3 separate regions of the Homo sapiens genome follow, and regions 1 and 2 are each linked to region 3. Evidence: fine-mapped expression QTL. A gene starts in region 3. Each other region holds a variant in brackets. All regions are shown on one strand. Distances are between the middles of the regions.

Region 1 (10,391 bases), 190 kb after region 3:
GCTCTGCCTCCAGGGTTCTTGCCATTCTCCTGCCTGAGCCTCCCGAGTAGCTGGGACTACAGGTGCCTCCCACCACGCCTGGCTAATTTTTTGTATTTCTAGTAGAGACGAGGTTTCGCCGTGTTAGCCAGGATGGTCTCGATCTCCTGACCTCGTGATCCACCTGCCTCGGCCTCCCAAAGTGCTGGGATTACAGGCGTGAGCCACTGCACCAGGCCCCAGTTCGTGGCTCTTAATCTGGATCTTTATGGTGGGAAATGGTTCCTTTTAGTGGAAATGATATTTAGAGGCCAAGTTCTGGGGGCTAGGTGGAGAGTCACTGCTCCCACACAGGCCCTCTGAGCTGTTAGAACTTGGAAATATACGCACATGTACATGGATACATACATACACCACTTATCTCTCTATTCCGTATATTTCTGTATTGAAATCCATGAGTTCACATTGACATCTCTGATTTCAGTTGTTCTAGTAACAAACCACACCAGACTGACAGACATGAGGCACAGCCAGTTTATTCTGCTGACAGATTGTCAGGAATTTGGATGGTACTGTGGGGTCTTCGTCTTTTCTCCACAGTGTCTGGAGCCTTCGCTGAAAGGACTCGAAGCCTGGGGGTGGTTGGACACAGGAGGTGACTCGTTGGCTGGGGGTTACGGTCAGAGTCTCTTCACGCCCCCCGTGGTAGCTGACGCTGCCTGTCAGCCAGAGCCTCAGCTGGGCTGTGACCAGAACACCTACATGTCCCTGGCATGGGCTTCCTCATATCACGGTGGCTGGGTCCACGGACAGGTCCCCAGAGAGAGGCCTGGCCCTGGAAGCTGGCACGGAATGACTTCCGCCATACGTCACTGCTCAGTTACAAGCTCAGACACAGTCGGGGCAGAGAGGACTGTGGAGTGGCACAAGGAAGTCATCAGTTCCACCTCTCAATAAAGAATTTGGGGCCAGGCGCCATGGCTCACGCCTGTAATCCCAGTACTTTGGGAGACCAAGGTGGGCGGATCACCTGAGGTCCAGAGTTTGAGACCAGCCTGGCCAACATGGCAAAACCCCACCTCTACTAAAAATACAAAAAAATTAGCTGGGCATGGTGGCATGCACCTGTAATCCCAGCTACTCAGGAGGCTGAGGCAGGAGAATCCCTTGAACCCAGGAGGCGGAGGTTGCAGGGAGCTGAGATCACGTCATTGTACTCCAGCCTGGGCAACAAGAATGAAACTCCATCTCAAAAATAAAAAAATAAAGAATTTGGAGACTAGGCACCATGGCCCACATCTGTAATCCCTGCACTACTGTGTTTTTGTTTTTTTGTTTTGTTTTGTTTTGTTTTTCTTGTGTTTTTTTTCTTTTTTTTTTTTTTTTTTTTTTTTTTTTTTTGAGATGGAGTCTTGCTCTGTCGCCCAGGCTGGAGTGCGGTGGCGCGATCTTGGCTCACTGCAAGTTCCGCTTCCCAGGTTCACACCATTCTCCTGCCTCAGCCTCCCAAGTAGCTGGGACTACAGGTGCCCACCACCACGCCTGGCCAATTTTTTATATTTTTAGTAGAGATGGGGTTTCACCGGGTTAGCCAGGATGGTCTCAATCTCCTGACCTCGTGATCTGCCCTCCTCGGCCTCCCAAAGTGCTGGGATTACAGGCTTGAGCCACTGTGCCCAGCCCATCCCTGAAGTTTTTTAGGAGTAGAGAAATAAAGTTAAACTTTTACTTAGTCCCTCTGTTTTTCAAGATATTCCCAATAGCCGCACCTGGTATCCCCCATCCAGACACCGTCCGTTTTGCCCTCTCCAAGAATAGAAGCTTCCTGTCCTTAGTAGGTTGGGCAGGGCAGCGGCTAAGGCTACTCAGAGCTGGGGCGAGATTCCAGGGGTTCAGGAGCTCCTCAGACAGATTTTTGGCTAATTCTTCTGCATACTACCTTGCCTTTCTCCCCTTCCAGAGGGTCCTGAGCCTTCTGAGGACACTTCAGGACTACAGATAGGAGCATTTCAGGGCCTTCCTCACTGCTGGAGTGGGATTCCATTCCTGAGATCAACTAGGTTGACTGTGATTTATCTTTCACTCTGTTGCCCAGGCTGGAGTACAGTGGTGTGATCACGGTTCACCGCAGCCTCGACCTCCTGGGCCCAGGTGATCCTCCCACCTCAGCCTCCGCATAGCTGGGACCACAGGCACGCACCACCATGCCCGGTTAATTTATTTTTATATTTTGTAGAGGTGGGGGTCTCCTTATGTTGCCCAGGCTGGTCTCGAACTCCTGGGCTCAAGCAGTCCTCCCACCTTGGCCTTTCAGAGTACTGGGATTACAGGCATGAGGCACTGCGCCTCACCTCTTTTAGGTTTAATTTTTAAAAATCCTTTTCCTTGGAAAGAAATGGAAGTAAATGTACTTAAATCTGCCATTTTAACCAGAAGACTCCCAAAACTTTTTAAATGCTACTTTGCAAGATAACTTTCTAAAATATAACATGCAGGGCTGGGCACAGTGGCTCACACCTACAATCCCAGCACTTTGGGAGGCCAAGGTGGGTGGATCACTTGAAGCCAAGAGTTCAAGACCTGCATGGCCAACATGGCAAAACCCTATCTCTACTAAAATTACAAAAATTAGCCGGGCATGATGGCACACACCTGTAATCCCAGCTACTCGGGAGGCAGAGGCAGGAGAATCACTTGAACCCAGGAGGTGGAGGTTGCAGTGAGCCAAGATCACACCACTGCACTCCAGCCTGGGCAACAGAGCCAGACTCCGTCTCAAAAAAATAAAAATAAAATATGCATATCTGTGCCCTCCTAGTCTTAAACAGCTACTGAATTATGCTGTAATAAATGGGCTTTCCAGTGCTAATTATTTCTGCCTCTATACCAAAGTGGCCACAGGCCATGCTTCTCTTGGCTTCTGGGCTCTCTTCTGCCTTCCCTTATGACTCCCTGGGATTTACGCTTTCCATGCTGCTGTTTTTCGAGAGAAACAAATCACGTGTTGAAGTCCTGGCTAAGGAGCCGTCAGCTCCCAGCAGTTATTGGGACTCTGAGAACCGTGGTTGTCAGCTGTGAGGTGCAGGTTCCTTGTTCTCAGAAGCGTTCTAGCTGGCGGGAGCTGGACAGGTTTCCTCTGGAACACAATTTTACCTGGTTTCACATCTGACTGGCAGGAAAAAGGGAAGCAGGGCAAGTGAGGTTAGGGCTACCCGGGACAGACGGGGATGGACGGAGCCATGTCGTCAGCGCCCAGTGGAGTTCTGACTGTAAAGGAACACACCGGTACGCCCTCCTTGTGAAGGATGCTATCCCTTCCCCACCACCGGTGATTTTGTCTCTGGGATAAATGTGAATTTTCACACCTGTTCTCTTAGGGTAGGAGTCAGCAAACTATGGCTCACAGGCCACATCCAGCCTGCTGCCTGTTTTTTAGGGCCATGAGCTAAGAACTAAGAATGGCTTTTATATTTGTAATTGGTTGGGAAAAAAAAATCAAAAGGATATATATATATATATATATATATTTTTTTTTTTTTTTTTTTTTTTTTTGAGACGGAGTCTCGCTCTGTCGCCCAGGCTGGAGTGCAGTGGCTCGATCTCTGCTCATTGCAAGCTCCGCCTCCCGGGTTCACGCCATTCTCCTGCCTCAGCCTCCTGAGTAGCTGGGACTACAGGCGCCCGCCACCACGCCCGGCTAATTTTTTGTATTTTTAGTAGAGATGAGGTTTCAGCATGTTAGCCAAGATGGTCTCGATCTCCTGACCTCATGATCCGCCCGCCTCGGCCTCCCAAAGTGCTGGGATTACAGGCGTGAGCCACTGCGCCCGGCCTCAAAAGGATATTTTGTGGCACATGAAAATTGTGTGAGATTCACTTCAGCACTCAGAAAATATTATTGGAACATTAGCCACACCTGTTTTTTTATGTAGTCTGGGGCTGCTTTCACACCACAGTGGCAGAGTTGAATACTTGAAACAGAGATGCTAGAATCCACAAAACCAGCTGGGTGCAGTGGCTCACACCTATAATCCCAGAGCTTTGGGAGGCCGAGGCAGGAGGATTGCTTGAGACTAGGAGTTCGAGACCAGGCTGGAAAACATAGTGAGACCATGTCTTTACAAAAAATTTTGAAAGTTAGCCAAGCATGGTGGCGTGCACCTGTAGTCCCAACTACTCAGGAGGCTGAAGCGGGAGGATCACTTGACCCCAGGAGTTCCGAGGCTGCGGTGAACTGATTGCCGCACTGCACTCGAGCTTGGGTAATAGGGCAGGACCCTGACTCAAAAAACAAACACAAAGGCCAGGCACAGTGGCTCACACCCGTAATCCTAGCACTTTGGGAGGCCGAGGTGGGCAGATCACCTGAGGTCAGGAGTTTGAGACCAGCCTGGCCCACATGGTGAAACCCCGTCTCTACTGAAAATACAAAAAATTTGCTGTGCGTGGTGGTGCACACCTGTAATTCCAGCTACTCGGGAGGCTGAGGCAGGAGAATTGCTTGAACCCGGGTGGCAGAGGTTGCAGTGAGCCGAGATTGTGCCACTGCACTCTAACCCGGGTGACAGTGCAAGACTCCATCTCAAAAAAAAAAAAAAAAAATTCACAAAGCCTAAAAAGTTTACTATCTGCCTCTTTAAAGAAAAAGTCTGCTCACTGCTGTCTCAGAGGATCAGGCCTTCCCTGCGAGTGTTCTGTAGTTAGGGATGACTGCCGGCCAGGGGGTCAGCCAGGTCAGTGTAGTGATGTCTGCAGAGACATTTACACCCAGAGACACAGATGGAAAACAAATGGCTAGACTGGTCAAATGGGAGGGGTCTTTGTTTTATGGAATAAAACAAAGTTCCTTTTCAGTTCCTTCAGCGTATGAGCAAAACCCATGTGATGTTTTCTCTCCCTTCATTCTGGGACTGCAAGCATTGAGGCCAGACAGGGTTCATTCCGAGCAGCGAAGGGAGTGTCGACAGACGGGAGCGTACAGTGGAAAGAATCCCATCCTTGCCTTCCCCTTCCCTTCCTCCCTGGTCTTCCTCTTCTGCTTCTCCAGCCCCCGTCCTGTGCCTGGCTTTATGCTAGGTCCAGGAGATCCACCGGGGAGCTGAAGCCACTGGCACTGGTCCTTAGCTCTGGAGTTGACGGATCTTGTGTCACACCTTTTGCAGATGAAAATGCTGACTCTCCAGAACCCATTTATCCAGGGCTGCCAGGTGGCAGGTTCGAGATGAGGGACCCCTCTCTGCCAGCCCTGAGAACTACTTCCTCACTCATGTGTTTCTACCTTGTGGCTTTGGGGTGTGCTGGCCCAGAGG[T/C]TCATGGATGGGGCTTGAGCCCGTGGTCAGCCACATTGGTTCCCAGAAGCAGGGACGGCAGAGGCATGGACAGCGCTGACCCAGAGTGCTCGGACCCGTCCTGGCAAAGCCATCTGGGCCTGAGGTTAAGGTTCAGCCCTGCCCTTTCATGTGATGGGACCAAGGCAGGGAAGGGGCTGAGCAGACTCGGGGCGGGGCCAGTGGCCAGTGCCCAGCATCACTCCAGACCCTGGCCATCGGTGGCAGGCTCACGTGGACAGAGTGCTCTGGAAAAGCCCTGGTTTTAGGATCAGAAACGTTGAATTTAGCACTTTCCTCAGGGCCTCTCATTCTTCCTTTTCCCATAAAAAAGAGACAGCTAAGTGACAGTGGAGGAAACCACCTCACACACTCTGAGCTTGAACTCAGAAGGTTCTCTGATAAAAGGGGATGAGAAAGGGGCAGGTGCCCTCCGGTAGCAGTAAATCTACTTTTTCCCTGTCTTTGTAGGGCTGACAAGTCCACCCCACTGACCAACAAAGGCCAACCGAGAGGACCTGGTAATTATTTAATTTGGGACTGAGTTTGTTTCTGCTTGGTCCATGGGGGCAATGTGGGGGATGTTTCCTGCCAGGTGGTCAGGACTGAGGGAGGGCCCAGCTGTCTGCCATTCCACAGCCCTCCTGCCCCCTCCCCTCCTGCCCCCTCCCCTCCTGCCCCCTCCCCTCCTGCCCCCTTCCCCTCCTGCCCTCTTCCTCTCCTTCCTTCCCTCCTTCCTTCCTTCCTCCCCCACTCCTGCCTTCCTCTGCTCCCTTCTCCTCCTCTCCCCCTCCCTCCCCCATCTCATGCCTTCCTCCCCCGCCACCTGCCTTCCTCCACCCCTCCCTTCCCCTCCCCTCCTCTCACCCTCCTCCCTGCCTTCCTCCTCCCTCCTCCCTCCTGCCATCCTCCCTCCTCCCTCGGCCTCTGAGACCCCTGCTCCTGAGCAGCTCAGTCCTGGGGCCCCTCACCTGTCCCCTCCTGCTGACATGGCAGGCTCACTGGGGGACACTCGCTGCCACACAAGCTCTCCAAGGTCTGCATCCAAGTCAGAAGGTTCCCTTTCCCCTCAACAGATCGGAACACCTGGGGAAACCTGCTTTCAGACACACCCTGTGGCTTGTACATTGTTTACATCTCATGGCTGTGATTGATGGGATGTCTTAAGCTGCTTCATTTTTGCCCTACAGTGGATCTCTCTGCAACGGAAGCTCTGGGTCCTCTGTCCAATGCTATGGTCCTGCAGCCCCCTGCACCCATGCCTAGGAAGTCGCAGGCAGTAAGTGACGAGCCCCCTTTCCTGCCTCTCTGCTCTAGCCAGGGGGGTGCAGGTGGTTTCACAAGGGCTCAGGGGAAGCAAGTCTTCCCCTCTTCCCCTGGCTGGGGCAGGGCGGGGCTCTTCTTGGTACCTGACTGCTTGGATCTGGGCAGCTGGTGGGTTTGGCCCTCCTGCCGCAGCTCCACAATGGGCCCACTCAGAGTACCCTGCCCCGGCCGCTTCGTTTCCCAGCCCTTGGCCCCTTCTCTCTGCTTGGTGGGGAGCTCTTCCCTTTTCTCTCCCTGGCTCCTGAGCTGCACTGACCTGCCCCACCTTGGCATCTGCAGGCTTCTCAGGCCTAGGTACGGGACTCCTGAGACCGGGGAAGGCAGGGTGCTTGAGCTCTCTGCCCTGAGAGCTGAGGCCTGCAGCCACACTAACCGTTGTTCCCTCTCCTGACCCAGACCAAGTTGAAGCCTAAGCGGGTGAAAGCGCTCTATAACTGTGTGGCTGACAACCCCGATGAGCTCACCTTCTCCGAGGGGGATGTGATCATCGTGGACGGGGAGGAGGACCAGGAGTGGTGGGTGAGTCAAGGGTGGGCCTGGGAGGTTCCTGGGGGCTGAGCCACGTCCCTGCCCACCTGGCTGGAGAGACGGGCTTGCAGGTGAGGTTTTCTCAGCCTGAGCAGTCCAGATGTAGTTCCTGGTGCCTCCGCCCCTTAGCATCCTCAGGAGCTGCTTCCTCCATGGACACCCCCTTCTGAGCAGGCCTGATTATTCCCCAGGGTGGCTTCCTCCCCTGTTAGGGTGCAGTTTCCACAGCACTCATGAGGGCCTGAAATGACACTCCTTCATTTTGAGGTCTTGAGTTTCTAGGTCATCACCCCCCATTGCTGGATTAGTGGAATCGGGTGTCTGGAGAGAGCTGACCTAGAGCGCAGAGCCCCAGGCCTGAGTCTGGTCCTGAAACAAGCTGTGGCCGCCCAGGCGTCCAGCAGGGTGTGGGAGCAAGATGAGTGCCGGCCACCTAAGAATTCAGACTTGGCCACTCAGGGGCTGGTGGCTTGGGGCAGGTTGCTTTTATCTTTAAGCATTAGTGGGATCATCTGTGACAGGGAGGTCACACACACACAGTCTGGTGCAGGTGATCTTGTGAGCACCCACTAAGCGGCAGCTGCAGACAGTGAGGGCGGTGGATGAACCGGCTTGAATGGGGCGTGGACAGAAAGCCCCAGGCTGAGCCCACCACACAGTAGACGCAAGTGGCACAGCTCCGCAACTGAGCTCAGAGCAGACAGTTCAGCTGGGAACTCACAGGATTTAGGGGAACTTCTTTGTCGAGTGCGAGGAGTTTGGACACTGTCTTTAGTCACTGTCCCTCCCAGAACTCCCACTAGTGTTTAAACTGCATGTCTTCAGCCTCCAGAGGCGCTGTGAGCTCTCAGGGCCAGGCAGCACTGCCTTCATTTGGCAGAGCTGGGTTCACCGGTCTTTCCTGTGGCCTCGTTTGCCCTTAATGGATTGAAAGTGTCTGTGGCCTGGGCGCGGTGGCTCACGCCCATAATCCCAGCACTTTGGGAGGCCGAGGCAGGCGGAACACTTGAGGTCAGGAGTTCGAGACCAGCCTGGCCAACATGGTTCTCTACTAAAAATACAAAAAATTAGCTAGGTGTGGTGGCAGGCACCTGTAATCCCAGCTACTCGGGAACCAGCCAGCTCCCACAGTTGCCCACAACCCACCATCCGGAAGGGGCGCCAACCTGACCACAGGCTTAGCCATGTGGAAAATACCTGCTCATTTCCAAAACTGGAAAATAGAGGCATAAAGAAGAAAACAGAAGTTGCCCATAACCACAGCACCCCCCACCCACTCCACAAAAAGCCCACCATTCATATTTTGGCTGTTTTTAGCCTTTTATTTGCCTACATCATTTACACTCTTGAGATCATATTTGGATATAATTTATGTATCTACCCAAGAGGGAACATAAGTGGATAGAGTGAAGCCTTCCACAAGTACTTAACTCATTGAAATGGGGCCAACTTATACCTTTGCCACTTTAGGTGACGTTGCAGCTCACAAACTTGTGACACTCAGTTCATTCATTCATTCATTCATTGAAAAATGGCAAGTGGGAAGTAGTGGTCAGACAGCTGACCTGTGTGCCTCCCAAGAACAGGTGGGGGTGGCCATCCCCACGAGCGAACATCTGGGACATGGCTGGGAAGAGCTCCTTACACGGGAGAGGCCTGCACTATTTGAAATGTGGTGAGGAAAAACGGACAAAAATCATTTGGATGTTTTACCTAAGTAATTCCTTGTCGGAAGAGTCTTCTGAACCAATCTTGCTTTTCTTCACCAAACGCTCTATGTAATGCTCTTCAAAGTTTCCACCAACATTTGGAATTTTAATAACAACCTACACTTTTCTCCATTTCAGATTGGCCACATTGATGGAGATCCTGGTCGCAAAGGCGCATTCCCGGTGTCATTTGTGCACTTTATCGCTGACTGAATTGCTACTGAACAAAAGCATTAACAGTTATGTTCCTGTTTCGTTATTGGTACCAAAACTCTTGCCAGATAACCAGTTTCATGAACTGTTTGTATGGCAGCCCATGTTCTCTAATGCCACTGCTCTGTTTTAAAAACTCAGAGGCAATTTTTACATATCAGTAATTGTTTTTATAATTTGTGGTTTTCATGAAACATTGCTATGCATTTATTAGGAAAAACTGAATTTCCCAACAGGTGAACTGAAAAGTTATTTTAACTATTATACATAATCAAGATCCTGCCTCTACGGAATTAGCTAAACCTAAAAATGTTTGCATTAATGAATAAATTCTTCCTGCATTCCTTGGCCCAGTTCTGGAGTTGGTGACCTTTATCACAATTATTATTTTAGGCGGCCAGTGAACTGCTGCTTCAGAAGTCCATAGCCCAGCTCTGAACTTTCTCGATAAAATGCCATCAGTTCACCTTTAAAGACACACATTCCTTTGAAATCCACCCAGTGTTTAAAAAGCAACTTGGAAATTTACACATTAGCATTGTACTTTCTAGCCCTAATTTGTGAGGTTGCAGCTATCATTATATTCTGCATGTATGTATAACCTGTTGTGAACAATCATACTTAACAAAACTACTGATGGTTTATGACAACGTAGGGTAACTACAGTTCATTCTGTTCCAGGTTATATAAAACTGCATTTCCTGAATTTGGTTAAAAACTAAGGATGATGGATTGCAAAACAGTTCTTTTAAATTAGTTTATATGCTTTAGGTGTTTTGGAATTTGCCTTCTTGAACTTCCTGAGTCACACAGAAAGCAACTGTACACAGTAGAATTCTGTGGCGCAGACCATGCTGTATTAACACATCACTTGCTGTTTCCTACTGAGTGTACCACTGCCTTCCCTTCTAGCCCAGGAGAATGTTTACTCAGTTTAGTGTCTTGTATTTCTATAATACTCCAACAGGAATGGTAGTCACACTGTCTTGAAATTGAATCTGTCCATCTGTTTATAATCAAGAACATATCAGAAATATATAGGTCCCAGGTAATACTCCCAAACATCCCACTTTTTACTGTTTCAGGCCATCATATCATTCTTAAGCTACTTGGGGTGGTAGTAGAGGATTAGGTTGTCTATTATAAAACCAAAACTCATTCGTTTAATGAACTTGACTGTCATACCTCTATTTAGTAATTGCGAGGGTAAGATTCATAGTAGGAATATTGGAAATTTTGGCACTCTGAGAATAAATAGGCATATGATACCCACTTGGACTTTTAACAAAAGTAAAGGAATAAATTTGCA
Region 2 (10,391 bases), 43 kb before region 3:
TACGGCCCTTCATCCAACCCACTGATCTTTGTCAAGTTTTCCCAGGTTCACTTGTCTTCACTGGCATGAGTATGGGTGCATATTAAGTTCTATACAATCTTCTCACCTTTCTATGTCATGTACCCACCTCCGGAGTCAGGATACTGGACACTTCCAGCCCCAAAGGATCCTTCTTTTGCCTCTTTAAAGAGGTTATTAATAACCACACCAACCTCCCCCCCAACCCCTCCCCCATCCTTTTTTAGTATGTTTTGTTTTGTTTTGTTTAAGTGAAAGCAAGTTTATTAAGAAAGTAAAGGAATAGCCTGGGCGCAGTGGCTCACGTCTGTAATCCCAGCACTGTAGGAGGCCGAGGCGGGCAGATAGATCACCTGATGTCAGGGGTTCAAGACCAGCCTGGCCAACATAGTGAAACCCCGTCTCTACTAAAAATACAAAAATTAGCCGGGCATAGTGGCAGGCACCTGTAGTCCTAGCTACTTGGGAGGCTGAGGCAGGAGAATCGCTTGAATGCAGGAGGCGGAGGTTGCAGTGAGCCACTGCACTCCAGCCTGGGTGACAGAGTGAGACTCTGTCTCCAAAAAAAAAAAAAAAAAGGAAGAAAGTAAAAGAATAAAAGAATGGCTATTCCATAGGCAGAGCAGCAAAGATGGAATTTTTTTTTTCCAGCAGAATTCTCTAGAGGCCCATCCAAGTTGCTGCGTGTGCCAGCAGGTTTGTTCCTTTTCACTGCTGACTAGCATTCTATAGCATGCATGTGTCACAGCTTGTTTAAGCATTCACCCGTTGAAGAACATCTCAGCTAATTCCTGTCTGGGACTATTACAAATAAAGTTGCTCTGAATGTTTGTGCACAGGATTATGTGTGAATATAAGTTTTCGTTTCTCTGGGATAAATGCCCAGGAGTGCAATTGCTGGGTCATATGGTAAATGCATGAATAGTTAAAAAAAAAAAAAAAACCTGCCAAACTGTCTTCTAAGGTGGCTGTACCATTTTATATTCCTGCAGCAATGTCTGAGACATCCAGTTTCCGTGCATTCTCACCAGCATTGGATGGTGCCATTTTTACCTTAATCATTCTGATAGATGTGCAGTAATATCTCATTACAGTAGTTAATAGCTTTCAGAAAACAGAATTAGAATAAACTGTTGTACACCTAGATTGGTATTACTTCACTGGCTCAATCACATTCCATTAGGTAAATATATAATAATTGATTTAACTATTTTTCTGTTGTTACTCATTAATGTAAAATATTTTGCTACTATAAAAATCTATTGGCTGGGCACAGTGGCTCACGCCTGCAATCCCAGCACTGTGGAAGGCTGAGCAGGGAGGTCACCTGGGGTCAGGAGTTCCAGACCAGCCTGGCCAACATGATGAAATCCCGTTTCTACTGAAAAGACAAAAACTAGCCGGCAGGTGCCTGTAATCCCAGCTACTCGGGAGGCTGAGGTAGGAGACTTGCTTGAACTCGGGAGGTGGAGGTTGCAGTGAGCTGAGATCATGCCATTGCACTCCAGCCTGGGCAACAGAGTGAGACTCCGTCTCAAAAAAAAAAAAAAAAAAAAAAAAAGTCTATGAAGGCCGGGCATGGTGGCTCCCGCCTGTAATCCCAGTACTTTGGGAGGCCTAGGCAGGTGGATCACTTCAGGTCAGGAGTTCGAGACCAGCCTGGCCAACATGGTGAAACCCTCTCTCTAACAAAAAATACAAAAATTAGCTGGGCGTGGTGGTTCACACCTGTAATCCCAGCTATTCAGGAGGCTGAGGCAGGAGAATTGCTTGAACTTGGGAGGTAGATGCTACAATGAGCTAAGATCCCACCACTGCACTTCAGCCTGGGCGACAGAGTCAGACTCTGTCTCAAAAATATATATATCTATTAATATTAGTATACACATATACATTAGTATACATAAGCTTTTGTATATTCTATATTACACTTTATAATATCAGTGCATATGTACACATATTAGATAGATTTTTTGCTCACTTACGCATGTATTTTTATTACTCATTCATAAAAGTACAATTGCTATGCAAAAGACATACACATTTGAAATTTTGATAGATATTGCAAAATTGCCTTCCAAAAACTTTGTACCAATATACACTCCCACAAGACTGCATAAGAATGATCATTTCCCTATAAACTCTCCAATAGTTAATATAATTCACTAAAAAAATTTTTTTCCAATATTATAGGTTTAAAAATAGTCTCTCATTATTATTGTAATTTGCATTTTTACTGGTGGAGAGGAGCAGTTTTTAACAATACTATTGGTCATTTTAATGTTGCGTATGTCTTTTTCATATTCTATTATGCTTATTATGTTATTTTTTCATTTTTTACTAGATTCTTTTCTTAATGATTTATTCTTTTAAAAACTTTCCCCACACAAAATTTTTTAAAATATTTCATCTTATGATTTTATAGTTACTTTTCACATTTAAACCCCTCATTTATTTAAAATCTATTTTTTGTTTATGATGCAAGGCAGAGACTGTGACAGAGGCTGTCACTGTGCCAACATGCTGAGACCTGGAAGAGCTGAGTTTATGTCCCCCAGGGAAAGCCTTACAAACAACCTGTGCAGGGGATAAGTAACTTACACCCTGATCTCTGCTTGTAACAAACTTGGATGGGATTTATGCTGCCCCTAGGCTGCCCTGAGGACTGAGCCACAGCTGCCCTCCACAGGACTTCGCTGATTCTACATCCTTGCCTGGCCTTGTCCCTTCCCAGCCTCACTTCCCTACTCCCCTGCTGACTTTCACTGGGAGCACTTCTTAAAAATTCACCTGCTCGGCCGGGCATGGTTGCTCACGCCTGTAATCCTAGCACTTTGGGAGTCCGAGGCGGGTGGATCACGAGGTCAGGAGTTCCAGACCAGCCTGGCCAACGTGGTGAAACCCCGTCTCTACTAAAAATACAAAAAATTAGCTGGGCGTAGTGGCGGGCACCTGTAGTCCCAGCTACTTGGGAGGCTGAGGCAGGAGAATCTCGAACCCAGGAAGTGGATGTTGCAGTGAGCCAAGATCATGCCACTGCACTCCAGCCTGGGCAGCAGAGCGAGACTTCGTCTCAAAAAAAACAAAAACAAACAAACAAACAAAAAAATATATGTATACTCACCTGCTCACAAATCCTCAGCTCAGGATCCATGTGTGAGAAACCCAACATAAGACCAAAATCAGATTTTATCTTTTCTACATGGATAGCTCATTTCCCCTGCTAATTTCCCTGACATCCTTATAAAACAGTCCAAACTTCTCCACTGATTGGGGATGGCATGTTTATTCTGTGCTGGCAGTAGTAGCTTCTGGTAGAGCATCTTTGCCCCAGGCACTGCAGAGAAGGGGTGGCAACCACCCTAGGGTCCTGCAGAGTCACTGTCCAGGCTGCTGAGGACAGTTGGCCGCAGCCCCCATCGGAGTCCTCCTACGAGGGACTTCAAATGTCAAGAATGTCCCACCGCAGTCCATATGATGTGTTTTAATGCAGATAGGACCAGAGCCTGAAGGACTTGTTTCTTTCAAAAACAACATACATTAACATGTTGAGGCAATAGTCGTAACCTCACTGTCCTAATACAAAAACTATATTCCCCTTCGTATGTCTTCCATTCTTTGCCAACCATGTGGTTCCCATCACATCATACTTACATTTTTGCAGTCTGTTTCTAAAATTGTATACTTGGCTGGGTGCGGTGGCTCACACCTATAATCCCAGCACTTTAGGAGGCCGAGGTGGATGGATCACCTGAGGTCAGGAGTTTGAGACCAGCCAGACCAACATGGTGAAATATAAAAATACTGAAATATAAAAATTAGCTGAGTGTGGTGGTGAGCGCCTGTAATCTCAGCTATTTGGGAGGCTGAGGCAGGAGAATCGCTTGAACCCAGGAGGCACATGCTGCAATGAGCTGAGATCGTGCCACTGCACTCCAGCCTGGGCAACAAGAGTGAAACTCTGTCTCAAAAAAAAAAAAAAAAATGTATACCATAAAATACTTCGAGGTTTATATATACTCTTTAAAATGATCATTTTTAACAGGCTGCATATTCATAAACTAGAATTTTTTTAGACATTATCTTGTGGTTGGATATTTTAGTCACATATAAGATTTTGCTTTATTAAGAGAACATGGCAGTGAACAAACTTCAATATTTTCCTACACCAGAATGCTGTGGTTTGAATGTTTGTCCCCTCCGAAACTCACGTTGAACTTGGACCTCACCAGATGTGGCCCCTCAACCTCTGACTTCCCAGCCTCCATAACTATAAGAAATACATTCGGCCGGGGGCCGTGGCTCACACCTGTAATCTCAGTACTTTGGGAGGCCGAGGCGGGTGGATCACAAAGTTAGGAGATCAAGACCATCCTGGCTAACACGGTGAAACCCCGTCTCTACTAAAATTACAAAAAATTAGCCGGGCATGGTAGTGGGCGCCTGTAGTCCCAGCTACTTGGGAGGCTGAGGTAGGAGAATGGCATGAACCCAGGAGGCAGAGCTTGCAGTGAGCCGAGATCACGCCACTGCACTCCAGCCTGGGTGACAGAGCGAGATTCCATCTCAAAAAAAAAAAAAAGAAAAGAAAAGAAATACGTTCCTTTTCTTTACAAATTACCCAGTCTCAGGTCTTCAGTTATATTAGGTTGGTGCAAAAGTAATTGCAGTTTTTGTCATACTTTTTTTTCTTTTTTTCTTTTTTGAGAGGGAGTCTCGTTCTGTCTTGCCCAAGCTGGAGTGCAATGGCATGATCTCAGCTCACTACAACGTCCACCTCCGGGGTTCGAGCGATTCACCTGCCTCAGCCTTCTGAGTAGCTGGGACTACAGGCATCCACCACCACGCCCAGCTCATTTTTGTATTTTTCATAGAGACAGGGTTTCACCATGTTGGCCAGAGGGTCTCAAACTCCTGGCCTCAAGTGATCCACCCGCCTCGGCCTCTGAAAGTGCTGGGATTAAAGGCATTAGCCACCGCGCCCAGCCTGTTTTTGCCATACTTTTTTTTTTAATGGCATAAAAAGCACCAACCTAATAGCAACAGAAAATGCACTAAGACACCAATGACGTGTTGTGTTTGTGATGACCCAAGAAAGTCTCCTGGAAGTTTATAGCTCCAGAGCTATAAAATATACAAAAATAGGCATTTTTTTAAGCCCTATACTCAGGTATGCAAAATGGTTCTTTCTTTAGTTTTTTGGAGCTAGACTTAGTTTCT[A/G]TCTTTAGCTCCCATTCCTCTTAGTCACAGAAAATAAAATCTTGCCAATTCAAAAGTTTCTCAGTTGACTCATGATAAAATTAGACAATGTATGTGTTTCTGCTCCCCACTTTCTCCCTAGAGTTGCAGCTCTTCTCCCTGGGGCATTTTTGGCATTAGGGCATGGGGGTTGCATCTGGTTCCCCCTGGGCTGGCATCCGTAAAGACGTCTGCATGCCCATGTGTGTATTTCTGTAGGATGCTCCCATACAGAGCTAACGGTGTATCTCCTGAACATGGTGCTTGGTGCTTCAGATACCCATCCAGGTAACCCTCAAAACAACCTTATCGGGGTGGGGACAGTATTAGTCCCATTTCACAGATGAGGAGAATGAGGCACAGAGAGGTTATGTAATTTGCCCGAGTCACAGACCTATAAGTGGTGGGTTCTGGATTCAAGCTCTTGCATTCTGGCTCCAGAATCTGCCACCTCCTGTGGCCCCACCCATCAGGCCACCAGTCCTGAGGTCCCTACCACATTCCTCGTTCCAGGCCATAGGAGCCTCAGGTATGGCTTATTTTGGCATCCAGACTGAGCCTGGCTCAGTCACAAGAGGAAAAGCCTTTGGCTGCTCCCAGTGCCCCGGGGCAGGGGCAGCACTGGAAGGCGACCAGGCAGCTCCAAGCAGAACCCTCTGCCCTCAATCATTAGCTTATCTGAAGTTTCCTGCAACCCCTACCCAGCCCTGGGGCCCAGCCTGAGGAGGGCAGAGTCAGGCCCACCCCATGCCCCCTCCTGTTCCCCCTTCTTGGGTCTCCCCTCTCCACCAGCTCAGGACCCCTCTCCAGTGTGCCAGGAGGGTGGGGGAAGCACTTCTGCCTAATCACATGTGATTCTAAACCCTCCCGCCCTGTCTTACACCTTGCTCATAGCTTCTCAGACTTTACAGCAGTGACTCCTAGCCCTGACGCATGTCAGTATCACTTGGGGAGATTAGAACAAAACAAAACAAAACATACTGGCATCCAGGCCCCAGCTCCAGAGATTCTGATTCAATTGGTTTGTGCTAGGCCAAGGATGGGTATTCTTTATTTTTTATTTTTTATATTTATTTATTTATTTATTTATTTATTTAGAGACAGAGTCTCGCTCTGTTGCCCAGGCTGGAGTGCAGCGGTGCATCTCCGCTCACTGCAAGCTCCGCCTCCCGGGTTCACACCGTGCTCCTGCCTCAGCCTCCCGAGTAGCTGGGACTACAGGCGCCCGCCACCACGCCTGGCTAATTTTTTGTGTTTTTTTTAGTAGAGACAGGGTTTCACCGTGTTAGCCAGGATGGTCTTGATCTCCTGACCTTGTGATCCGTCCGCCTCGGCCTCCCAAAGTGCTGGGTTTACAGGCATGAGCCACCACGTCTGGCCAGGGATGGATATTTTTTTAAATCTCCCAGGAGAGGCTGGGCGCGGTGGCTCACGCCTGTAATCCCAGCACTTTGAGAGGCTGAGGAGGGTGGATCATGAGGTCAGGAGTTCAAGACCAGCCTGACCAAGATGGTGAAACCCTGAGTCTACTAAAAATACAAAAATTAGCCAGGTGTGGTGGCGGGCGCCTGTAATCCCAGCTACTCAGGAGACTGAGGTAGGAGAATTGCTTGAACCTGGGGGGTGGAGTTTGCAGTGAGCCGAGATCACGCCACTGCACTCCAGCCTGGGTGACAGAGTGAGACTCTGTCTCAAAAAAAAAAAAAAAAAAAAAAAGTCTCCCAGAAGATTCTAACATGGGTCCAGAGCCAAAAAAATTCACAGTTTTAAAACCAAGAATTTCATCCCCTGTTCTCGGGTTCTGCTATAACAACTTCCTCTTGGAGCCACGGAAGCCTTCTCTCCAGAAGGTGAACCAGGCAGTCGGGGGGAGGGATGTGAAGCAAGGTTCACGCAGCAGACAATTGTCTTTCTTTTTGTTCTTGCGGCTGAACCCCCTTCCTATATTTACAGAATTTCCCGCCTATGGGTCTTCATGTGAGAAAAGCCCTCTTCTGCTTCTAGAAGCTAAAAATGCCAGATACTCACTTCCCCAGCCTCGCTTGAGGCCAGTGCATTACATGTAGCCTTGATCTTGAATTGGAAATTCATAATGAAATGAGCAAAGAGCTCTCTGGCAGTGGCAACAGCTAACTATGGGATCAAATCTCTACCCTAATGGTGGCATCCTGGTGTAGCCAGCGGCCTGTGGCCAGAACCAGGGGTTGAGTGTCCTGGAGGACTGTTGCTGTTTTGCAGTTGGGATATGGCTCCGGCTGTGTACTGTCTGGGCCTGGCGCACCAGCCCTTCTGGAGATTCTGTGAGTCATCCCATTGCCTACAAAGAAGTCTTGTTCTGCTCCCATCAGCCAGATTTGGATTCTGTTTGCTTCAAAGCACCTGCTGGGTGCAAGAGTCAGAGGAAGGTTAAGAAAAAAAATGTGGCTGACACTTCACAGTGCCATCCAGCCACAGGGCATGACCGAGGAGCAGCACCTGGCTCTTTCTGCAGTCTCTGAGGTTTATTCAATAAACCGGAGCCACAGGCACCATAAGAATGGGCAGCAAGTCCGGGCACAGTGGCTCACGCCTGTAATCCCAGCACTTTGGGAGGCCGAGGCAGGCAGATCACGAGGTCAGGAGTTCGAGACCAGCCTGGACAATATAGTGAAACCCTGTCTCTACTAAAAATACAAGAATTAGCTGGGCATGGTGGTGGCGCACGCCTGTAGTCCCAGCTACCTAGGAGGCTGAGGCAGAAGACTCACTTGAGCCTGGGAGGCAGAGGTTGCAGCGAGCCAAGATGGCACCACTGCACTCCAGCCTGTAGGACAGAGTGAAATTCCATCTCAAAAAAAAAAAAAAAAAAAAAGAATGGGCAGCAGAATGCCTGCACTAGAATCTCCTGAGATGCTTGATAAATGTCAGATTCTTGGGCCTTACCCCAGAGACTGCTTTGTAGTCCGAGGGTTTGGAGCCTGTATTCCTGCATTGTTAATGAGCTCTTCAGGCAAGTTTGGGAATCACTGGACTAAATGGTGAATTTAACCCCCACTGCATGGGCCTAAAGGACTTGTTACAGGTGCAGAGCTCGCGTGTTTGGAAACAGACTGAAGATCACCAAGCACAAAACTTTCACTTTCAAATGAGAAAATGTGGGGAACAGAAGATTCTAGAAGACACAGAGCACTGACTCTGGGAGTGTGGGTCTTGTGGTTGTCCAGGCTCCACCAGGAATAGAAGATGGAGGAGCTGAGCTGGCAGGCAGACAGTGAGGCAACAGCAGGAAGCCACTGTCACCCTAGGTGAGAGGTGACATCAGCTGAGCCCAGGGCTGGGGTCATGTGGTAGATACTGGGGCCATGGCAGGCCTGCCCAGCTGCAGTTGGAGGCAGAGCCGAGGGAGAAGTAGCCGGGCTTCCACCTTCTTACTCCTTCTGTCTCCTCCCAGAGCTTCCCACTGGCCAAGAGCCTCCAGAAGCCAGGGAATGCTGAGCCTGGGTACCCCGCCTGCAGGCCTCAGGCCCACTCTGTGACCCGGAAGAGAGGGAAGAGCCGCAAAGGGATCTGAGGGACAGGAGGCCCAAGACCTGGGCATCCAGAGAGCTGATTCTTCTGAGGTTTCAGAGGGAGAATGAAGCTCAGCTGGGCGGAGAGCCTTGCTCAGATGAGGAAGCAACAGAAACAAACTAGAACCCAGCTCTCCTGAGTCCCCATCCTACACTGCTGGCATGAATCACAGCCCAGCAGACAGATCCCAGCTGCTTCTGGTTTGGGCTCGTGTAGCTATTTCTCCCCTGGCCCTCGGGTCAGCTGCACTTACGGCATTTTAAGATTCAAATGGGGCAGGGCAAGGTGGGGAAGTCGGGGATGATAGAACACAGAAGACAGGTAGCCCTCGCCCACTATCTAGTGAAGAGACTCCTCTCCATGCTAAAGACACTGCATAGCACAGAAAAACAAAAGACAAGTGCCTTTTGCCCTGAGAATTCCACAATGTGTGACACCCGAAGCTTCGGAAAACAGGGCTAGGACATGGGTTGTCACACACACCCTTCTCGGTTTGCATGTGGAGGAAGGTCAACGGCACAGCTATAAGGAAAACTGCATTCCTTGTGAAAGCAAGGGTTGGATGTCTGGAGCAACATCTTCAACCAGTGTTTTCATTTACAGATAAAGAACCTGAGACTTGGAGAGGTGATGTGATTTGCCCGAAGCCACACGATGAGTTAGTGGTCAATCCATTCATCTTAATGTCAGCTAGAGCATCCCTCTGCCTGGTGACTGACTTCCCAGGGGCCACGAATCAAGGACGTGGGACAGTTAGTCAGGAAAAGGACCCGAGCCTCTGCCGTGCTTCCTCCATGGCCTATTTAACCTTTGTGACCTTGTATAGCCTGCCTGGGCACAGCTGGCTGTTGATAACTAAGGAGCCAATCAACATCCAGAGCTGGGTGCCCAGGGCGAGGCAGCAGGTCCAGTTCTCACCGTGGCTCTGCTGCAAAGCCTAGGGCAGCAGCTGAGGGGCAGGCAGGGAGGAGCGCAAGAGGCAAAAAAGCAGGTGAGGAGGTGTTACCTGAAAGGGGTCCCCATCCAGACCCCAAGAGAGCGTTCTTGGATGTTGTGCAAGAAAGAATTCAAGGCAAATCCATAAAGTGAAAAGTCTCTGGCCAGACTTTGGGAAAGTCACTAAACACCAGTGCCCTGAGGACACAGTCACCTTTCAGTCTGCTTCCAGCTCTAGGGTTTAATGAAAGCTGTCAGCCACTTGCGGTTCTGCCTCCCTTTTATCAACAGTGTCTGTTTGCAGAGCAGGAGCCATTCATCCCAGCGCTGTGCTTTCAGCTCTGTCCACTGACCCTCTGTCAATATTCAGCGCAACAGCAGGTCAGTGCCTTCCAGCCTGTGTCACTCAGCACATCATTAGCCGCAAAGTCACTGGAAGGACCGCATTCTCTGGATTGTGCTGTCAACTTTGACTTCCAAAATACCAGCACATGCAACACTTTACATAGTTCCCCATGAGTTGACCAACATTTGAAAAATCTAAAGAGATCACTCTGATGACTCTTATGACACTGAAGGAAATATGCTTTTCATATTTAATCTAGGCTATTTATTTTCCCATGAGATAGCCAGAGAGGTGGAAATTCTGA
Region 3 (10,391 bases):
AAACACTACAAAAACAGGTTGTGAACTATATTTGGCCCCTGGGCCACAGTTTGCAGATCCCTGGGTCAAAATATGGTGTGGGGAGGGCCAGGGTCAAGGAAGTTGGGGAAAAGGCTGGAACAAACTGTGACGAAGGAGTTTAAACCTTATCTAGGGGCCAAACGGAAACCACTGGACATTCTTTAGCCCAGGGAGAACATATCCAGATAAGACACAAGTGGACTTCTGCACCAACTAAGAGGGGGCCTTGCAAAATTAAGAATGGGTCTTCGTGGAGGCGGAAGAGACTGAGTTGACTCAAGAAGATAAATTATTGCATGCACTTTAAAAGCTTTAGAGAAACTTATTTACATACAGAGTGCTTATTAAACTCTTTTTTGCTCTTTCATTAAAACAAACCACACCCTCTGTCGGTACTGGGTTGTGTTGTTCTGAGTACTTGAAAACAACACATGGCATTTTCTTAATAACTCAAAGACAAATACTTTTTATTAACACAAGTTCCTTTGCTCATATAGTCCAATTTACTGAGATTTTATCCTGTATGTGTTTTAAGTCCATAAGAGTGACTCAGAGCTGGAAGTTCCAATGCCCTGACTCTGGACAAGGATGATACAATTATACTCAGAAGTGGGCTGGTCAATGTTCAACAATCTACTCTCTGAAAAGGTGTATGTGTGAACATAAGTAAATACGTTTATTTTAACTTTTACTGATTTAAAAAATGTGTAGCACACAATTTATGAGTAATTACAAATTACACACTACTCTTTAGTGTAAATTCCATATAGTTAATTGATTCTCACAGAATGGTTTCATTGATTTTGGCCAAATGCTTTCATTCATAGCCAATCTGTGTCTGCAATTCAACCACAATTTGACAAAATAAGACTATAAATAAATGCTTGATTATTGCCCAGCTCAGCAAAGTTGCTCATGTCATTAACAAATGAGTGTAGGCCGGGCGCGGTGGCTCACGCCTGTAATCCCAGCACTTTGGGAGGCCGAGGCGGGTGGATCACGAGGTCAGGAGATCGAGACCATCCTGGCTAACAAGGTGAAACCCCGTCTCTACTAAAAATACAAAAAATTAGCCGGGCGCGGTGGCGGCGCCTGTAGTCCCAGCTACTCGGGAGGCTGAGGCAGGAGAATGGCGTGAACCCGGGAAGCGGAGCTTGCAGTGAGCCGAGATTGCGCCACTGCAGTCCGCAGTCCGGCCTGGGCAACAGAGCGAGACTCCGTCTCAAAAAAAAAAAAAAAAAAAAAACAAATGAGTGTAGTTCCAACCTGAATTTAGTTGACTTTTTTGTTTATGTTAATAAGACAAAACTGAAACAGTGAAGATGCATGCTATAACTTTATTCATCTGTCAATGACATGAGTGACCTTTTTACTCAATCATGTACTAGTTTGTAAATATTAGAAGGGTATTTCCTCAAAAATTTCATTATTTACAATGCGATGGCTGTAGACCTGACACACCTTTAAGTCTAATCCGCATGAATGATACTTTCTCTATAACTGCATTAAGTTTATTAAGTTAGACAATCAACAAAACAATAAATCAGGCCTTGATTTTTATCATTTGCCAATTTTCCTGCTGTAAATACTCTACCATGGACAATCTCAAACTACCAGAACATGGAGTTGGGAAGAGATGTTCACTAGCACACCATGATATAATATTTCTACCATAGAGAAGAGATACAACCAACTTGCAAAATTCCTGAAAATTGAAGAATCAGGTCTCTGGAGCCAGCACAAGTGACTCCCGTATATGACTGATCATATTTAATTTACCTATTACTCTCTTTCCAGTTCAGCAATGAGTGTGTCATCTATTCAAACTGCTTTGTTAAAATAAAAAAATGAACAGGCCTCAAGTTATCTGTAAAGTTAGCAATGAATAAATCTGCTTGTTATCTAAATCTACCATCTTAACAAAATGACCACTTTCTCAAAAATTTAGCTCCCAATGGCATCTAAAACATGCCTCATTCTCAAAAGTCTAGGACAATAATTAGAGTCTCAGTACTAATGTTTAGCAATGCTTTGTGGCATTTTTCTCTCTTGTGTCTAAACTAACATAAAACACAGAAAATGGCAGCACGAACACCAGGACACCAGGACGGGGAGGCGCCTTAGAAATTAGCTAGTCCAAGCTACACTCTTTAGGGAGGCTAGCTTTATTTCTTTTTCTTTTTTTTTTTTTTTGAGACAGAGTCTCGCTCTGTCGCCCAGGTTGGAGTGCAGTGGCCGGATCTCAGCTCACTGCAAGCTCCGCCTCCTGGGTTTAGGCCATTCTCCTGCCTCAGCCTCCTGAGTAGCTGGGACTACAGGTGCCCACCACCAAGCCCGGCTAATTTTTTGGATTTTTAGTAGAGACGGGGTTTCACCGTGTTAGCCAGGATGGTCTCGATCTCCTGACCTCGTGATCCGCCCGCCTCGGCCTCCCAAAGTGCTGGGATTACAGGAGTGAGCCACTGCGCCCGGCCTAGGGAGGCTAGCTTACTTATCACAGAGAAGCAATTTATTACCAAAACCCAAGTTTTCATTTGTAAAATAGTTTCTGGGTGCTAAAGTGAGATAACTGTGGTAAATGTACTCAATCTTCTCTCACTTTGGGGATAAATGGGTCCCTTCAGCAACACGATTTTGGGCAGAGTATTATTAAGTTACGAAAAGAAACTTTCAGTTATACTTCCATGTTCACATCACCAGGGTTTTTAGGTTGTTGTTACTATTTCTTACCATAGTTCTTTCAAAGCACATATTTGCCCATTCCAAGAGTAATCATTTACAAGTTAATAGCAAGTGAACTGGACAAGTCTTGTGTAAACCAGCCAACCCTCAAGCAAATTTCAGAGTCAAGAACATATTTTACACCTTGATCTGAGAGTGATAAATCCCAGGTTCTTGTGAACTACTAGAGGCAGAAGATTCCTTTGGAAAATGGGCTGTTGGCCAATCTCACTGGGCCGCTAAAAATTTCATTTTTGGGAGGAGAGTCTCTTCTCTGGAAACGATGTCTTTAACATCACGTTTTCGTTCTCTCCTTTTCCTCTTCCTTTCCTTCTCCTTCTTCCTTCCTCCTTTTTCTTCGCCTTTTTTTTTAAAAAAAAATAATACAGGCCTACAATCTCTTACTGAAACCCCAAGGGCCAGATATGTGTGGATTCAGAAATTTTCGGATTTTAGAAAGGTAACACATTGCATATAATAACATATTCCTAATTACCCCCAGTAGGGTCTGGGGCAATACTTCATAATCAACCATGTTTATATTTTGCAGCAAAACATACATATTCACATGAGGTAGGATAAACAAGACCACACATAGCCTCACATCAGTTCATTTCAGATGAATTTTACTATTAAGAACTATTTGTAAAGCTACATTTTCAGGGATTTTTAGTAATTCTGGTTAAGGAAGTATAGGCCTGTAAGGACATTACCAGCATACTCTTCTTCTCTTGATGCATTTAAAAAAATGAGTATGTGTAGAGTGTTTCCTTGATCCATGTTGAACTTTAATTTTATTGTTATTTATTGGAAGCTACTCATTCTTATATTAATCTCAGAAAGGCATTAGCTATGTTTTGCTCTGGTCTTGCTTTAATTCTAGGCTTATGCAGTAGGCAAGTTAGATTTCTAAGGGATGATGGAGGAATAAATGGCTCTAGCATTCTACCAATTTGGTATCCTCTTTAGGCCACCAATGAACTTGGTAACTAATTGTTGTTTTCCACCAGCCTTGCAATGCAACACAGCTTTGCAATTTTATTTTTTTGAGGCTACTAAAGCTTCCTGTATCTGCAAAATTAAACTAAAAGAAACAAGAACCGGAGTTGTATATAAAGAGAGAACAGAGAATACCAAGCTTAACTTTGTCCTTGTAGAAGTATTGATTAGTCTGGTTAATGCTGTACTAGACATCAAGGAAAAACCCGACTTTCTTTCTTAGATCCCTCATAGCCTCATAGAGACCAGCCCTCTACAAATCAAGACTTGAAAAGTTATTCAGCATATTCCCTCATGTCAAAAACTGTAGCTGGGAAACTAGGTAGGCGGGAACAGAATCTGCCTGGTGTTGGAGAGGATGTATTAATATAAATAATAAACACAAAACATGAATTGTAGAAGGTTGCAAATAGAGGAAAACTTCAGACACCAAAAGGATCAAAAAACATAAAAAGAAACAGATACAATTTTTAAATTGTAACTTGTTGTCTAGTGCAATGATAAAAGCTATCCACGAATACAGCGATTTTAGAAAGTTAAATTTTACATGCAGTGCTACTAAAATACCAAAGGCCATACATAATGTCTGACCCAAGCTGCCACCTCATATAGCAACTTCTTACATGGGGGCTTTAAAAAGATTGTTTGACTGGTCTACTGTCCTGCAGTGTCAGGAGACGGCTTTGTCTGACATATTGAATTTCCAGTGTCTCTCACACTTCCTCCTTTTCAGATGCACAAAAGGTTTTTGTAAAGTTTCTCTTGGTTTTACCGCTGGCAGCTACAGAAACCATGCCACAAGTCTGGTGTAGAGTTATAGGGTGTGATTTTATTTGACTGGTATCTTCAGAGCTTCTGGATTTTTCAGTATAACCGAGAATTTCCTTAAGAGCTGTAAATAAAAATCGGTACCAGTTCGAACCCTTTACTGGCCCGGTTTTGTGTGAGGTTGGCTGGCTGCTGTAGCACGTTCTCCCCCTCCTCCTCCTCCTGCACCCCCTCGGTTCCCTCCTCTGCCTGCGGGAATACCACTTCAGGGCGTTCAGCAGCCTTCCCAGGGTGGGTCCTGGCCTAGTACCCTAAAACTATAACCGAGAATACCTATCATTGGGCAGCCTAGGAAACGCGACTGGGACTTTTAGTAGGGGCCCCTCACCGCTCTGAAGCACTCACACTTGAGTCAGGGAACATGGGTTTGAATCCCCACCCGGCCGTTTATCTTGTGCTCTTGGGCACACTGTGTCCCCTATATAAAATAAGCACCCATCTCTTCATCTGTCTCCTAGGCCTGCGACGATGCAATGACTGCACGCAAAGCGCACATTCACGGTCAGGTCACTTCTGGCGTCCGGCTGTGGTCCCCGCAGGGTGCCCGCCGGCGGAGCGCATCCTCCGGCAGGGGGCGAGCTCCGCACCCCGCTTTCCTCATGGGCCGGCGCGGCCCGCCGTTCAAGTGGGGAGCCCAGAGGTGCTCCGCGCCGTGGGCGGGGGGCGGTTGGCGCGCACAAGGCCGGACTCCGGCGGGGCGCACCTCCACACGCACCCTCGCGGGCAGCGGGTCGGAGTCGGGGCCTCGGGCCGGCTGGGGGCGGGGCATGGGCGCGGCGCGCGGGGCCCGGAACGCCGAGACAATGCGGCGCGCGGCGGCCAGGAACGGCTCGGCGGGCCGGGGCGCGCGCCGCCTTCCTTCCTGCGGGATCCGCTTCCCGGCGGCGCGGCAGCGGCGAGCGCGCCGATTGGCGGCCCGGTCCTCCCGCCGCCCCGCCCCACGCCCGGCCGGCCGCCGCCCCCGGCCCGGACCCGCCCCTCTCCGCGGGAGGCGTCGGGGCCCGCGGCTGGGTGGCGGGTAGTTCCCGCCGGCTGTGCGCGCCCGCCTCGGGGCTCGCTCTGAGAGGACGCGGCGGCAGCGGACTCGGAGCCCTCGGCGCGCAGGCGGGCGGACCGGCCGAGCTGCGCGGGGCTGCGCGCCGCCCCTGCTCCGCCGCCAGGCCCCGCGCGGCTCCCGCGCCCGGCGCTCCCCTTTGTCCGCGGGCCGGAGCGGCGGCGGCAGCGGCGGTGTCCGAGCGGCGGTCGGAGCCTGCTGCGGCAGTTGAGGCGGCGGCGCCCCTGCGGCTGTGCGCCAGCGCCCTCGCGCCGAGGCGATGCCGGACCAGATCTCCGTGTCGGAATTCGTGGCCGAGACCCATGAGGACTACAAGGCGCCCACGGCCTCCAGCTTCACCACCCGCACGGCGCAGTGCCGGAACACTGTGGCGGCCATCGAGGAGGTGAGGCGGCCTGCGCGGCGGCTCCGGCCGCAGGTATCCCGCGCCCCAGCCCCGCCCGCCGCTCCCGCATCCGCATCCCGAGAAAACTTTCTTTGCTCCGAAGCCGGACGCGGCCGGGCCAACCCTGCCCGAGACAGAAGCCCTTTGTTCCCGCCTAGGTGGCTCGGAGGAGATGGGTGATGGCCACCTTGGGCCTCTTTAAGACCTCCCCTCTCTCGGCCTCGTGGCCCTCGCGGGGTTCCGCGGCCTGGTCTTTTCCCCGCAGCGCGGCCAACTTTGTCCAGAGTCGGGGTCCGCGGCGAGCGGGGGATCCCGCTGCCCGCCGCCGCCCGCCGCCGCCCGGGGTCTTTGGTACCCGGTGCGGACCTTATCAACTTGTTCTTGAAGTGGACCGGCGGGGGCAGCTCCGCGCTCCGAGCTCCCCGCCGCAGCCCCCGAGCGCCGCAGGGCCCCCACCCTCGGGTCCGCGGGTCCGGGGCATCCCGGGCTGCCCGGGAAGGCGTGCCCGCCTCAGCCAGGGCGGCCTGGCTGCGCTCCACCCGTGCCCGGAGAAGGAACTGCGGGCAAGGTGTGTGAGAGTCGGCGCTTCTGGGTCCAAGAAGCCTCCAGGAGCCGCTCCCCGGTTACCTGGGTCTCACCTGCTTGAACCCGGAATGCCGCCCTTCCCCCTCAACCTGGAAAAGGCCTGGTTTTAGTAAAGTGCTCTCAAGGTGCAAAGTCATCACGCCTAGCTGCTAAGCAGTACGCTCTCCAGGTCCTGGGGAGAGGAACACGTAGGAACGAAGAAGCTTGGTTGAAAATTAAAGCCGTGGGGAAAGGGGCAGAGTCTGTGAGTCCAGGGGCCACCGTTGGCTGTGGTTTGAGGCACATCCTCACCTGCAGTCCTCCTTTTCCTTACCCATCAAACGGGATTAGTAATGCATCCTTTCCAGGATCAGAGACTGTGTGAAGTGCTTAGCACTCTGCTCGGCTCAGAATAGGTTTACAAGTCACACGTGTGGCAATAGTGAATCTGTGATTAAATGTCTCTGGGCCAGGATGTCAGGTTACAGTTTTAAAATTGGGTATTGCAGGTGTTTTAGCAGAAGACGCCTGGGCTAGCAGGAGTGTGTGTGTGGGTGGGGGGGTGGGTGTCACCAAAGAGCTTTAAATGAAGCAATGGCGTTATTTTTTTTTTCTGGTTTTTTTTTTTTTTTCCCATTTGAACAAAGCATCTGCTATTAGGAATTGCTTGAAAAAAAATCCAGAATGTTTTCCCTTAATGGAAAAATTTTTTCTTTGTAGCTGTAAACAGTCAATAAAAGGGAGTCAAAAGTAACATTCAGCATTCTGAATCCTGTTAATATAACTTGGGTAGCCTTCCTTCTCTCCATTTAATTTGGCGGAAGAGAGCTGCATGTAAACCTTTCCTATGAATTCGGTGATTCCCCAGATCACTTAATTCTACTTTTAGCAGCAAGGCTTACAGATGATGCCTTCAAATGAGGCAGATGGGGATGGGTGAATGAAATTTTTTCCTAAGTGCCAGTTAAAAAGCACGGTGTTTTGAGAATACACCATTAATAATGTTTATGGAATGATTGCAACCAAAAAGGTAGCTGAATATTTCTTAAGGGAAGGAAGCATTGTGCATGATGTCTTTCTTTAGAAAGCTTGATTATGTTTAAAGTTCTGTTGCTTTTCCCCACTGCAGTTTGTCAGTTAAATATTATTAACACTGGCAGATGTTGGAAAGCCAAGCAAACAAGAATTGCTATTAAAATTGGCATACCTTTCTCTGATTAATTTTAGTTTACAGTGTATAATTCCAAAGCTCTTTTTGTATGCTGTGCAGGAGATTACCCTAGAGCTCAGTTACTGAGCAGATTACAAAGAGACTGGATTTGGTCATTTCATTAAATTGCAAGCTTGCTTCATGCTGCCGTCTAAGCCCAAGAATTGGTTCAAGTCTCAAAATGGAAAAATTAAAATCATTTCAGGTTTATTTCACTTTAAGCAAATCTACATACATGCTATGATGATGGTATGTGTGAGCTTGGTTTTATAACTAAATTTGAAAGTTGTTCACTTTCTGAGGTAAATCAATGTGGATTTCTTTAAATAATGCTCTTTCCCAGGTGTCTAATGTTCGTGTCTATTACCAAAACTTGTTCTATGTATGGTTTAATAACAATTGATGTGTACAGTATTTTGGTTTTAAACAAAAATCTTCTCATACTGAGACGAAACATGAGAGGGTATCATGACATAAAGTTACTCATTTAACAAATAAATAAAATTTGCAAGCTCTTGGTCTTATGTTTAAACAAATGAATCACGGAACTAGCAAACTAATTTTATATTTATTTATTTATTTGTTACGGAGTTTTGCTCTTGTTGCCCAGGCTGGAGTGCAATGGCACAATCTTGGCTCACTGCATCCTCTGCCTCCCAGGTTCAAGCGATTCTCCTGCCTCAGCCTCCCAAGTAGCTGGGATTACAGGCATGCGCCACCATGCACAGCTAATTTTTTGTATTTAGTAGAGATGGGGTTTCACCATGTTGGTCAGGCTGGTCTCGAACTCCTGACCTCAGGTGATCCACCTGCCTCAGCCTCCCACAGTGCTGGGATTACAGGCGTGAGCCACCACACCCGGCCAGCAAACTAATTTTAAACTGATTAACCTTTTTGAATCTGTTATTTCCAATGTAGGTTCTATCTGCCAAAGAATCATTTTACAATTAAAATGTGCTGTTTTGATTTGCATACTTGTTGCTGGAATATTATTATAGTAACTGTTGGGCCCTTATCCTGTACTATGAAACTCACAGGTATTGAATTCAGTCCTTATCTCTGCTTTATAGGCGAGGAAATTGAGGCTCAGAGAGGTTAAGTAATTTGCCAAAGGTTATAGAGCTCTGAAGTGGACTTTGAACTTGGCTCCTGCTGTTTTCAGAAACCATGCTGCTTCCTGTTACTTTTCTTAATGCCGAATTCTCTAAATTACTCCTTTGTCAGATTGACCTGGGTTCAAGTTCAGGCTCTACAGCTTGCCAGCTGAGTGAACTTGAGTGAGATGCCTAACATTTTCTTATTTTCCTCAGCTTTAAAGTCTGGTTAATAATACCTATCAACTTCAGAGGATTGTGGTGAGGGTTTAGGAAGATAGTACATAGCACAGAAGCTGCCAGACAATTAGTTACCAGATTATATAGTTAGTGAGTCCACAGGCCCCAGTGAGGGCTTTTGGAGTGAGGATGGGATTTACATGGGGGGAAGTGTCAGGGAAATGGATGAATGGCTGAATGGGTGAGTGAATGAAACACTACCGTGTATCTGTTAACCCATGTGTTTTTTTTTTTGAGATGGAGTCTCGCTCTGTCGCCCAGGCTGGAGTGCAGTGGCTCGATCCCCACTCACTGCAAGCCCCGCCTCCCAGGTTCATGCCATTCTCCTGCCTCAGCCTCCCGAGTAGCTGGGACTACAGGTGCCCGCCACCATGCCCGGCTAATTTTCTGTATTTTTAGTAGAGATGGGGTTTCACCGTGTTAGCCAGGATGGTCGATGGTCTAGATCTCCTGACCTTGTGATCCGCCCGCCTTGGCCTCCCAAAGTGCTGGGATTACAGGTGACCCATGTGTATTTTTTAAAAGTTTGTTGTCAGGCCAGGTGCGGTGGCTCACGCCTGTAATCCCAGCAGTTTGGGAGGCCAAGGCGGGCAGATCACTTGGGGTCAGGAGTTCGAAACCAGCCTGACCAACATGGAGAAACCCTGTCTCTACTAAAAATACAAAATTAGCTGGGTGTGGTGGCGCATGCCTGTAATCCCAGCTACTTGGGAGGCTGAGGCAGGAGAATCACTTGAACCCAAGAGGTAGAGGTTGCGGTGAGTCGAGATCGTGCCATTGCACTCCAGCCTGGGCAACAAGAGTGAAACTGCGTCTCAAAAAAAAAAAAAAAAGTTTGTTGTCCTGGCAGCTGGTGAGAGCATACCTGTATTTTATAATTTTTCACTTGACCACCTTCTCTGGTTCAAGTCATCATTTTGTACAATTTTAGCAAACTTAGCAAAGTCTGGTGCTGCAACCAGAGTCTGCCCTGTGCTTTTGGAAATAATGGAAAAAATAAGCAGTTGTGGCAGAAATTTGAAAAGTAAGGGTTTTTTGTTCCTTTTTTTTCTTCTTTTTTTTTCGTTTCTTCGAGCCTCTGGGCACTTTGAAATATTCTCAAAATAGGGAAAAATTGTATACATATTTGGAATATTCATGTTTTTAGTTAGACCCTCCTTTATAGCACCATCCATTCTGCCTTACGTATTTGGCATTGATGTAGTTTTAAAAATAAATTTGATGTTGACTTGTAAGTATTAAAATTTAATCTACTTCCTTCCGGGGCCATAATTC

Direction of the effects. Alleles are on the strand shown, and positions count from the first base shown. SD is a standard deviation of normalised expression in the study named.
For the expression in cerebral cortex of the gene that starts at base 5,590 in region 3, allele T in region 1 goes with a higher level than allele C (small effect, 0.36 SD a copy in GTEx).
In carriers of allele G in region 2, the expression in gastroesophageal junction of the gene that starts at base 5,590 in region 3 tends to be lower than with A alone (small effect, 0.33 SD a copy in GTEx).

The links.
Region 1: its variant is fine-mapped to the expression of ASAP2 in cerebral cortex (GTEx, PIP above 0.99).
Region 2: its variant is fine-mapped to the expression of ASAP2 in gastroesophageal junction (GTEx, PIP 0.96).

What each region holds. Positions count from the first base shown.
Region 1 is chr2:9,394,246-9,404,636 of GRCh38, forward strand. It overlaps ASAP2 (ArfGAP with SH3 domain, ankyrin repeat and PH domain 2), which reads left to right. Exons shown (of 28, transcript NM_003887.3): 25 at 5,778-5,827; 26 at 6,497-6,585; 27 at 7,029-7,151; 28 at 9,008-10,391. The coding sequence ends at 9,082. ITGB1BP1 (integrin subunit beta 1 binding protein 1) reads right to left here. Exons shown (of 7, transcript NM_004763.5): 7 at 9,230-10,391. Among named protein-coding and RNA genes, the nearest start is that of ITGB1BP1, 24 kb to the right of the region's middle. RefSeq lists an enhancer at 6,299-6,862. The variant T/C (reference allele first, on the strand shown) is at 5,289.
Region 2 is chr2:9,158,229-9,168,619 of GRCh38, forward strand. No RefSeq gene overlaps it. Among named protein-coding and RNA genes, the nearest start is that of ASAP2, 43 kb to the right of the region's middle. The variant A/G (reference allele first, on the strand shown) is at 5,239.
Region 3 is chr2:9,201,223-9,211,613 of GRCh38, forward strand. It overlaps ASAP2 (ArfGAP with SH3 domain, ankyrin repeat and PH domain 2), which reads left to right and starts at 5,590. Exons shown (of 28, transcript NM_003887.3): 1 at 5,590-6,008. The coding sequence starts at 5,883. RefSeq lists enhancers at 4,739-5,671, 5,672-6,602 and silencers at 5,120-5,379, 5,126-5,309.